Linked DNA regions of Homo sapiens. The protein of the gene in region 1 purifies or fractionates together with the protein of each later gene. This does not show direct contact. Each region holds a gene or a part of one and is shown in the gene's direction. Other genes may lie near its edges.

Region 1 (3,225 bases):
GACAGGGAGGCTCTGGGCTGGTTCTCTCTACAGATGGCCTGTATTTTCTCCGCACTGAGAATGGTGTTATCTACCAGACCTTCTGTGACATGACCTCTGGGGGTGGCGGCTGGACCCTGGTGGCCAGCGTGCACGAGAATGACATGCGTGGGAAGTGCACGGTGGGCGATCGCTGGTCCAGTCAGCAGGGCAGCAAAGCAGTCTACCCAGAGGGGGACGGCAACTGGGCCAACTACAACACCTTTGGATCTGCAGAGGCGGCCACGAGCGATGACTACAAGGTTGGTGCCACTTCTTACCCACTCGGGTGAGGGTGAGGAGTGGAGTGTGGCTGGCCACAAGCCTGCAGGAGGGATGGCTGGAAGGTAGGGGTGTGGGATGGGCTGGAGAAGAAGAGAGAAATACTTATATCTTTTTTTTTTTTTTTTTTTTTCTTGAGACGGAGTCTTACTCTGTTGCCCAGGTTGGAGTGCAGTGGTGTGATCTCGGCTCATAGCAACCACGGCCTCCTGGGTTCAAGTGATCCTCTGCCTCAAAAGTAGCTGGGACTACAAGCGCCCACTACCATACTCAGCGAATTTTTGTACTTTTAGTAGAGATGGGGTTTCACCATGTTGGCCAGGCTCGTCTCGAACTCCTGACCTCAAGTGACCTGCCCGCCTTGGTCTCCCAAAGTGCTGGGATTATAGGCATGAGCCACCACACCCAGCCAATTTACACTTTGAATCACAACTTCCTCCTAACAAGGCTGTTAGGGCCCTGGGTGTGGTGGGATCATCGGCTGGGAGTGGGGTGTCTGAGTATGGTTGGCCATCTGCTCATCTGGAGTCCAGAGCTCTCACAGTCCAGCTGAAGTTGCATGTGTGGACCTTCTGCCTCCTGGGACCTCCTGGCCCAGTCAGGCTCAGTGTCTGTTGCTTTCCAGAACCCTGGCTACTACGACATCCAGGCCAAGGACCTGGGCATCTGGCACGTGCCCAATAAGTCCCCCATGCAGCACTGGAGAAACAGCTCCCTGCTGAGGTACCGCACGGACACTGGCTTCCTCCAGACACTGGGACATAATCTGTTTGGCATCTACCAGGTACAGAAGGCTGCTGGCTGGGACTGGTTTTCATGGGTGTACAGAGAAGCAAGTGTTAGAGGTTGGGCAGGAGTCATTTTTTAATGGGTCTGTCTCCCATGTTCTTCTAACCCAGATTTGCTGATGGCTTCTGTTGCTTCTCTTAGGAATTCTAAGCCAGGCAAGAGAAGGGACCTATTGGAGAGGACAGCTGGGGCAGGAAGAGTGTGGATGGGTCAGGGAGAAGGAGAGAGAGATAATGAAGTGGTCCAGGCTGCCGCAGAAGCACAGCTCTCGCCTAACTGGCAGCAGTGTCATGGAAAGATTCTTATTTTGACTGGTTTTGAAGTAATCTCAGTTACTGAGAAAGCATTGTTTCTCCTCTATGAATGGCAGCATCCCAGGAGATGCTGGTAATGGCAAAGCTATTGTCTTTACTCCATGACTTTTTCTGTGTTCTTTGTAGAAATATCCAGTGAAATATGGAGAAGGAAAGTGTTGGACTGACAACGGCCCGGTGATCCCTGTGGTCTATGATTTTGGCGACGCCCAGAAAACAGCATCTTATTACTCACCCTATGGCCAGCGTGAGTCTTTAATGATCCTCTGAACTCCTGGTAGGAAAGGGAATACATTCAACTATGCTAGGTAACAGTTATGCATCGGACTGAAGCTTGGTTCTCTCCTGTAATGTTCCCTATATTGCCCCACTTGATTTGCATGGCTGCCTTTGAGATCTGAACTTTATTAACCTCATTTTAGGAAACTGAAGCACTGAGAGGTTTAGAAACTTGTGAAGATCACAAGGCATATGTGGAAGAATCAGCAACTGGGGTGAGGAAATTTGGCTCCAGACTTTTTTTTTTTTTGAGATGGAGTTTTGCTGTTGTTGCCCAGGCTGGAGTGCAATGGCGCAGTCTCAGCTCACTGCAACTTGTGCCTCCCAGGTTCAAATGATTCTCCTGTCTCAGCCTACCAAGTAGCTGGGATTACAGGTGCCCACCACCACGCCCAGCTGATTTTTGTATTTTTAGTAGAGATGTGATTTCACCATGTTGGCCAGGCTGGTCTCCAACTCCTGACCTTTGGCGATCCGCCCCCTTCGGCTCCCAAAGTGTTGGGATTACAGGTGTGAGCCACCACGCCCGGCCAGGCTCCAGACTCCAGACTCTTTACTCCTAACAACCCACTCTCAGCCCTGCAGGAGCTTGTTAGGACCAGGCCAGGTCCATGTGCACAGAACAACCAAAAAAATGGCGAGACTTTTTTTTCTATTGTGAGTTTATTTTGTGTGAAGCCAAAGTTGGTAGCATAGTACGCTCCGCAGAGGCTGAGCATATATTATAGAACTCAAAGCTGTTATTATTTACATTTTGGAGTTGAGATTTTAAAATAAAGGAGAAAAGAAAAATGTAAACAGGAACAGAGTGAATACATCTGTTAATTTCTGCAACTCAGCCCTTGGAGATGTTCAGTGGTGATCTTCCTGCAGAGTTGAATTTCTCTTCACAAGCCTCTGGCAGATGAGGAGCCCTCTCTGAGGACCAGCTCTTCATCTCTGGGGTTGGGAAAAGGTCCCTCTTAGCTAAGTTTGAGGCCAGGATGTAGCAGCCATTGGCCACAGGGGTGCTGGGCTCCACCAGTACAGCTGGAGTGTTGGGCTGTAGCCTGAGCTTTGGCATCGAGAGCCTCTGGGCTGGCCTAAGGAAAGCAATTTCTAGCATCTTCCTTGAATGCTGTTTTCTGCCTCTTGTTTTCAGGGGAATTCACTGCGGGATTTGTTCAGTTCAGGGTATTTAATAACGAGAGAGCAGCCAACGCCTTGTGTGCTGGAATGAGGGTCACCGGATGTAACACTGAGCACGTGAGTCTCTGTGGGGACTGCAGGGACCTGTGAGTAAGGTCGAGTTTGTCCGTGTGTGTTGGTATGTGTGAGTGTGTTGAGTGTGGTATGACTGGGGTGTGTGTGTACGTGTGTGGGAGTGTGACCTTCTCTTGCTCATTGCTGAGCTTCAGGGGCCAGGGCCATGGGAACTTTTGTCCAGGTATACATATCCTGTCACTTTGAAGACCAAAATCAAGGGGTGAGGCTTCAAAAGAACCATTACTGGGTGTTCAGCCTTTGTGAGAAAACACTCAATCGCTTGGAGCTGGGGTGAGGC
Region 2 (3,655 bases), on another chromosome or scaffold:
TGGTTCTGGGTCAGGCAGGCAACCTGAGTAGCTGCCAGGATCCAGCCACATCCTGCTGAGCTGCATGAAGGACTGTGGGGCTCTCTGGGGCCTTTGTTCCTTGTTACACTTGGAGTTGCTGGTCTCCCTTAACTGGCTTGTAGGTCTTAGCCCATCTGGGCTGCTGTAATAAAATACCTTAGACTGGAAGCCAGGCACATTGCTCATGCCTCTAACCTCAGCATTTAGGAGGCTGAGATGGGAGGATTGCTTGAGCCCAGGAGTTCGAGACCAGCCTGGGCAACATAGTGAGACCTCATCTTTACAAAAAAATTTAATTTTAATTTGTTTTTCACCCGTGACACAGCCCTCAGGAGGTCCTGAGAACATATGTCTCTCGTCTTTGCAAAAAATTGTTTTAATTAGCCGGGCGTGGTGGCACACATCCCTAGTCCCAGCTACTCAGGAGGCTGAGGTGAGAGGATAACTTGAGCCCAGGAGTTTGACGCTATAGTGATCCAAGATTGCACCACTACGCTTCAGCCTGGGTGACAGAGCAAGACCCTGTCTCAAAAAAACAAAACAGACTGGGCCATTGATAAACAACAGAGATGAGCTGCTCATAGTTGTAGAGGGTGGGAAGTCCCATATCACGGTGCTAGCAGATTCCGTGTCTAGTGAGGGCCCATCTCTCATAGATAGCACCTTTTAGGTATCTGCACAGGGTGGCAAGGACAAACAAGCTCCCCCTCTTTTATACGGGCACAGTTCGTATTCATGAGGACAGAGCCCTCCTGACTGAATCAACTCCCGAAGGCCCCACTTTTTTTTTTTTTTTTTTTTTTGGTGAGACGGAGATTTACTCTTGTTGCCCAGGCTGGAGTGCAGTGGTGCGATCTTGACTCACCGCATCCTCCGCCTCCCAGGTTCAAGCGATTCTCCTGCCTCAGCCTCCCAAGTAGCTGGGATTACAGGCATGTGTCAGCATGCCAGGCTAATTTTGTATTTTTAGTAGAGACGGGGTTTCACTGTGTTGCCCAGGCTGATCTCGAACTCCTGATCTCAGGTAATCCGCCTGTCTCTGCCTCCCAAAGTGCTGGGATTACAGGCGTGAGCCACTGCACCCAGCCCTTTTTAAATTTTTGATCAACAACTTCTTTTTTATTTTGAGATGGAGTCTTGCTCTGTTGCCCAGCCTAGAGTGCAGTGGCGTGATCTTGGCTCGCTGCAACTTCCACCTCCTAGGTTCAAGCAATTCTGCCTCAGCCTACCTAATAGCTGGGATTACAGGCGTGCACCACTGCGCCCAGCTAATTTTTGTATTTTTAGTAGAGATGGGGTTTCACCATATTGGCCAGGCTAGTCTCCAACTCCTGACCTCAGGTGATCCGCCCACCTCGGCCTCCCAAAGTGCTGAGATTACAGGCGTGAACCACCATACCTGGCTGAAAGGCCTAACTTTTTTTTTTTTTTTAGACGGAGTCTTGCTCTGTCACCAGGCTGGAGTGCATTGGCCCGATCTCGGCTCACCGCAACCTTCGCCTCCTGAGTTCAAGCGATTCTCCTGCCTCAGCCTCCCGAGTAGCTGGGATTACAGGCACGTACCACTGTGCCTGGCTAATTTTTTGTATTTTTAGTAGAGATGGGGTTTCACCATGTTAGCCAGGATGGTCTCTATCTCCTGACCTCGTGACCTCGTGATCCGCCCTCCTCAGCCTCCCAAAGTGCTGGGGTTACAGGCGTGAGTCACCGTGCCCAGCCAGCCCCACTTCTTAATACCACTACATTGGAGATAGGCTTTAGCATGTGAATTTTGGGAAGAGGCAAACATTCAGACCATAGCATCTGTCGACGGCCATGTCACAGCTTCCCTGGAAAGACATCAGGAAAGGACTGTGCCTTTGACAGTCTCTCACAGGCCCATGCTGGCTGGGGAATTCCTCAGCTCTCTTCCCTAAGAGCTGACAGTTACTACTCCCAGGAATCATCCTGCCAGCCCCCTTCCTGCAGATGGCAGGATCCACCGGCAGTGTGAGCAATTCGTCAGGTAACACTGCGGTCTCAATAGGCCCCTGACTGCTGGCTACCCACCTTGGCAGCTGTCAAAGGAGGTCGTCTGTCTGCCCAGCCACAGATAATGCTTCTGAGCCCTATTCCTGTTTGAGCCACGTTAATGTGGAACAAAACAGGGAGTTAGGTTAGGAGGAATGGAAGTAATTCTTTGTTCATTTTTTCCACGAAGGACTGTGAGCACCCACTGTGTACCTGGCCAGGTCCTAGGGGTAGAGGACACAACAGGGATCTACACAGGCAAACTCCCTGCCCCAGGGAAACTGACATGAAGCCCCAAAAAATGCCCAGTTTGGCAGGGGTGGTGGCTCGCACCTGTAGTCCGAGCACTTTGGGAGGCCAAGGCAGGAGGACCACTTGAGCCCAGGAGTTTGAGACCAGCCTGGGCAACATTAGGGAGACCTCGTCTCTATTACTAAAAAATGCACAAATAAATAATTTTTTTTTAGAAAAAGAAAAATGGCCAGCTTGCTAAATAAATCATAGGAACTCCCAAGAAGGATAAGTCAAGCAGGGAGAATCAAGCCAGGGAGTTAGTGTCGGGAAGGGCTTTGTTGGTCAGACGCAGTGGCTCATGCCTATAATCGCAGGGTTTTGTGAGGCTGTGGCAGGAGGAACACTCAGCTGGGAGTTGGAGACCAGCCCAGGCAATATAGTGAGATCACGTCTCTACCAAAAAAAAAAAAAAAAAAAAGCATACATATACATATACTTTTTTTTTTTTTTTTTTTTTTTTTTTTTCGGTTAACTGGATGGGCCGGGTGCCGTGGCTCACGCCTGTAATCCCAGCACTTTGGGAGGTGGGCGGATCACTTGAGGTCAGGAGTTCAAGACCAGCCTGGCCAACATGGTGAAACCCCATCTCTACTAAAAATAGAAAAATTAGCCAGGCATGGTGGTGGTTACCTTTAATCCCAGCTACTCAGGAGGCTGAGACAGGAGAATCGCTTGAACGATTCTTGCAGTGAGCCGAGATCCCACCACTGCACTCCAGCCTGGGCGACAGAGCGAGACTCTGCCTCAAAAAAAAAAAGAAAAAAAAAAATTAGCTGGATGTAGCTCCTGTGGTCCCAGCTATTTGGGAAGCTGAGGTGGGAGGATTGCTTGAGCCCAGGAGTTTGAGGCTGAAGTGAGCTATGATGGTGCCACTGTACTCCAGCCTGGGTGACAGAGCAAGGCCCTGTCTCCAAAAGCAAAAGAGTAGAGAAAGGGCTTTATGTGACCAGGGAGAGTATGAAGAGCTATGGCTGTCCCATTCCCATTCTAGTAGGTCCGAGAGCAAGCAGGGCCAGACTGCCAGGGGCCCCAATAAAGCATTGTAGGGGCCCAGGCAGTGTCACTTGGGGCCAAGGTAGTACAAAGTGGTTTTGAAGGAGTTGAAGATGAATCCAAGGATCTGAATGAGGAGGGCCAGAGCTGGTGAAGCTACGGCATTCACAGGTTTTGGGAAGGACTGGAGCCAGGTCCTGAAATTGTTGAGTGGAGGTGTCTGGGGTGTGTGCGAGTCTGGCATTCACAGGGAAGTCCGGGCCAAAGACTCCAGTGGGGGAGGCATCAGTGAATAGATGGTGCTTCAGGCCTGTCTTAGTCAGCTCAAGCTGCCACA
Region 3 (2,592 bases), on another chromosome or scaffold:
ACAGGTATGACCTTCATCTGAGTGGGTGAATTCCTGTAAAACAAATTTTCCATTAAGATTTTTTTACAGGTAGATTATATAAACATATGGGGTGACCTAAAGACATACATGAGGAATAAATAATGGAGTAGTTTGACAGGGGAAAGGTTTTTAAATCAAAAGCATTTATTCTCTTTTCCTGGATATCAGAATATGATCCCGAATCCTATCCTAAGAATAGGATGCCTGTCCTTTGTTGAGAAGGTGCAGCTTGGCTGAAATGAGAGGATGGATTGGATGGCTGGAGAGTGTTGATCCCCTCCAAGGCTTACGTGCTTTTGAGACTGGTGGCCCGTGTCCTTTTTCCTCTTTTAACTGCCTTGTTTATTGGCAGGTCAAAGGCATCACATTGCACCCTGAATTATTTTCTATCGACAATGGCCTTCTGACTCCAACAATGAAGGCGAAAAGGCCAGAGCTGCGGAACTATTTCAGGTCGCAGATAGATGACCTCTATTCCACTATCAAGGTTTAGTGTGAAGAAGAAAGCTCAGAGGAAATGGCACAGTTCCACAATCTCTTCTCCTGCTGATGGCCTTCATGTTGTTAATTTTGAATACAGCAAGTGTAGGGAAGGAAGCGTTCGTGTTTGACTTGTCCATTCGGGGTTCTTCTCATAGGAATGCTAGAGGAAAGAGAACACTGCCTTACAGTCACCTCATGTTGCAGACCATGTTTATGGTAATACACACTTTCCAAAATGAGCCTTAAAAATTGTAAAGGGGATACTATAAATGTGCTAAGTTATTTGAGACTTCCTCAGTTTAAAAAGTGGGTTTTAAATCTTCTGTCTCCCTGTTTCTCTAATCAAGGGGTTAGGACTTTGCTATCTCTGAGATGTCTGCTACTTGCTGCAAATTCTGCAGCTGTCTGCTGCTCTAAAGAGTACAGTGCACTAGAGGGAAGTGTTCCCTTTAAAAATAAGAACAACTGTCCTGGCTGGAGAATCTCACAAGCGGACCAGAGATCTTTTTAAATCCCTGCTACTGTCCCTTCTCACAGGCATTCACAGAACCCTTCTGATTCGTAAGGGTTACGAAACTCATGTTCTTCTCCAGTCCCCTGTGGTTTCTGTTGGAGCATAAGGTTTCCAGTAAGCGGGAGGGCAGATCCAACTCAGAACCATGCAGATAAGGAGCCTCTGGCAAATGGGTGCTCATCAGAACGCGTGGATTCTCTTTCATGGCAGAATGCTCTTGGACTCGGTTCTCCAGGCCTGATTCCCCGACTCCATCCTTTTTCAGGGGTTATTTAAAAATCTGCCTTAGATTCTATAGTGAAGACAAGCATTTCAAGAAAGAGTTACCTGGATCAGCCATGCTCAGCTGTGACGCCTGAATAACTGTCTACTTTATCTTCACTGAACCACTCACTCTGTGTAAAGGCCAACAGATTTTTAATGTGGTTTTCATATCAAAAGATCATGTTGGGATTAACTTGCCTTTTTCCCCAAAAAATAAACTCTCAGGCAAGCATTTCTTTAAAGCTATTAAGGGAGTATATACTTGAGTACTTATTGAAATGGACAGTAATAAGCAAATGTTCTTATAATGCTACCTGATTTCTATGAAATGTGTTTGACAAGCCAAAATTCTAGGATGTAGAAATCTGGAAAGTTCATTTCCTGGGATTCACTTCTCCAGGGATTTTTTAAAGTTAATTTGGGAAATTAACAGCAGTTCACTTTATTGTGAGTCTTTGCCACATTTGACTGAATTGAGCTGTCATTTGTACATTTAAAGCAGCTGTTTTGGGGTCTGTGAGAGTACATGTATTATATACAAGCACAACAGGGCTTGCACTAAAGAATTGTCATTGTAATAACACTACTTGGTAGCCTAACTTCATATATGTATTCTTAATTGCACAAAAAGTCAATAATTTGTCACCTTGGGGTTTTGAATGTTTGCTTTAAGTGTTGGCTATTTCTATGTTTTATAAACCAAAACAAAATTTCCAAAAACAATGAAGGAAACCAAAATAAATATTTCTGCATTTCAGGTGAGTGAGGCATCTTTTTTAATGTCATGTTTAATATTCGGAACAGCCTGTAATGTGCACAAGCGAAGAGCAAGAATGGCCCTGGGCCTGGAATCCTTCCCAGTTGTCTTCTTTTCTTCTTAGTCACCCTCCTCTAACTCAGCTGGCCTCAGGCACTGACAGACACTGACCCGAGCCTCCCACCAGGTTGTCTGTGGCAAAAGTCCTAACTGGTTGTGGAAAAGAAAGTCATGGTGTGAATAACAGAGAAGGTCCTGAAAATGCAGCTTCCTTGCTGGAAAATGTATTTCAGGCGACGCTGGCTGTAACTGGTGATTCCGTGGTGAATGTAATCCCACTATTGTATTTTAGCACTGTTTAGTCATTCTCTTACTGTAGAATTATTTCAGATGTCTCTTTATAGCAGCCAACTTTTTCTTGTTTCTTTTCTTCTATCTCCACCCTATTCCTTCTGTTACCATTTTAAAGATTTTCTTTTCCACAGGTATTAATGAATCAACCCCCTAATTTCTTCCAAGCCTGTTGTGTTTAAATCTAGTTTCCTGTCTTAAA

What was found.
Region 2: the proteins of ITLN1 (region 1) and NACC1 purify together in Homo sapiens (affinity purification with mass spectrometry; 3 studies listed by BioGRID and IntAct, with this or other methods). This does not show direct contact.
Region 3: the proteins of ITLN1 (region 1) and ACSL1 purify together in Homo sapiens (affinity purification with mass spectrometry; one large-scale study listed by BioGRID and IntAct). This does not show direct contact.

What each region holds. Positions count from the first base shown.
Region 1 is NC_000001.11:160,879,013-160,882,237, reverse strand, and holds part of ITLN1 (intelectin-1 precursor), read left to right. Parts: intron 1-33; coding exon 34-281; intron 282-925; coding exon 926-1,084; intron 1,085-1,529; coding exon 1,530-1,650; intron 1,651-2,823; coding exon 2,824-2,927; intron 2,928-3,225. UniProt on the Homo sapiens protein: Lectin that specifically recognizes microbial carbohydrate chains in a calcium-dependent manner.
Region 2 is NC_000019.10:13,124,611-13,128,265, forward strand, and holds part of NACC1 (nucleus accumbens-associated protein 1), read left to right. Parts: intron 1-3,655. UniProt on the Homo sapiens protein: Functions as a transcriptional repressor. Seems to function as a transcriptional corepressor in neuronal cells through recruitment of HDAC3 and HDAC4. Contributes to tumor progression, and tumor cell proliferation and survival.
Region 3 is NC_000004.12:184,755,047-184,757,638, reverse strand, and holds the end of ACSL1 (long-chain-fatty-acid--CoA ligase 1), read left to right. Parts: coding exon 1-4; intron 5-373; coding exon 374-514; 3' UTR 515-2,044; downstream 2,045-2,592. UniProt on the Homo sapiens protein: Catalyzes the conversion of long-chain fatty acids to their active form acyl-CoAs for both synthesis of cellular lipids, and degradation via beta-oxidation. Preferentially uses palmitoleate, oleate and linoleate.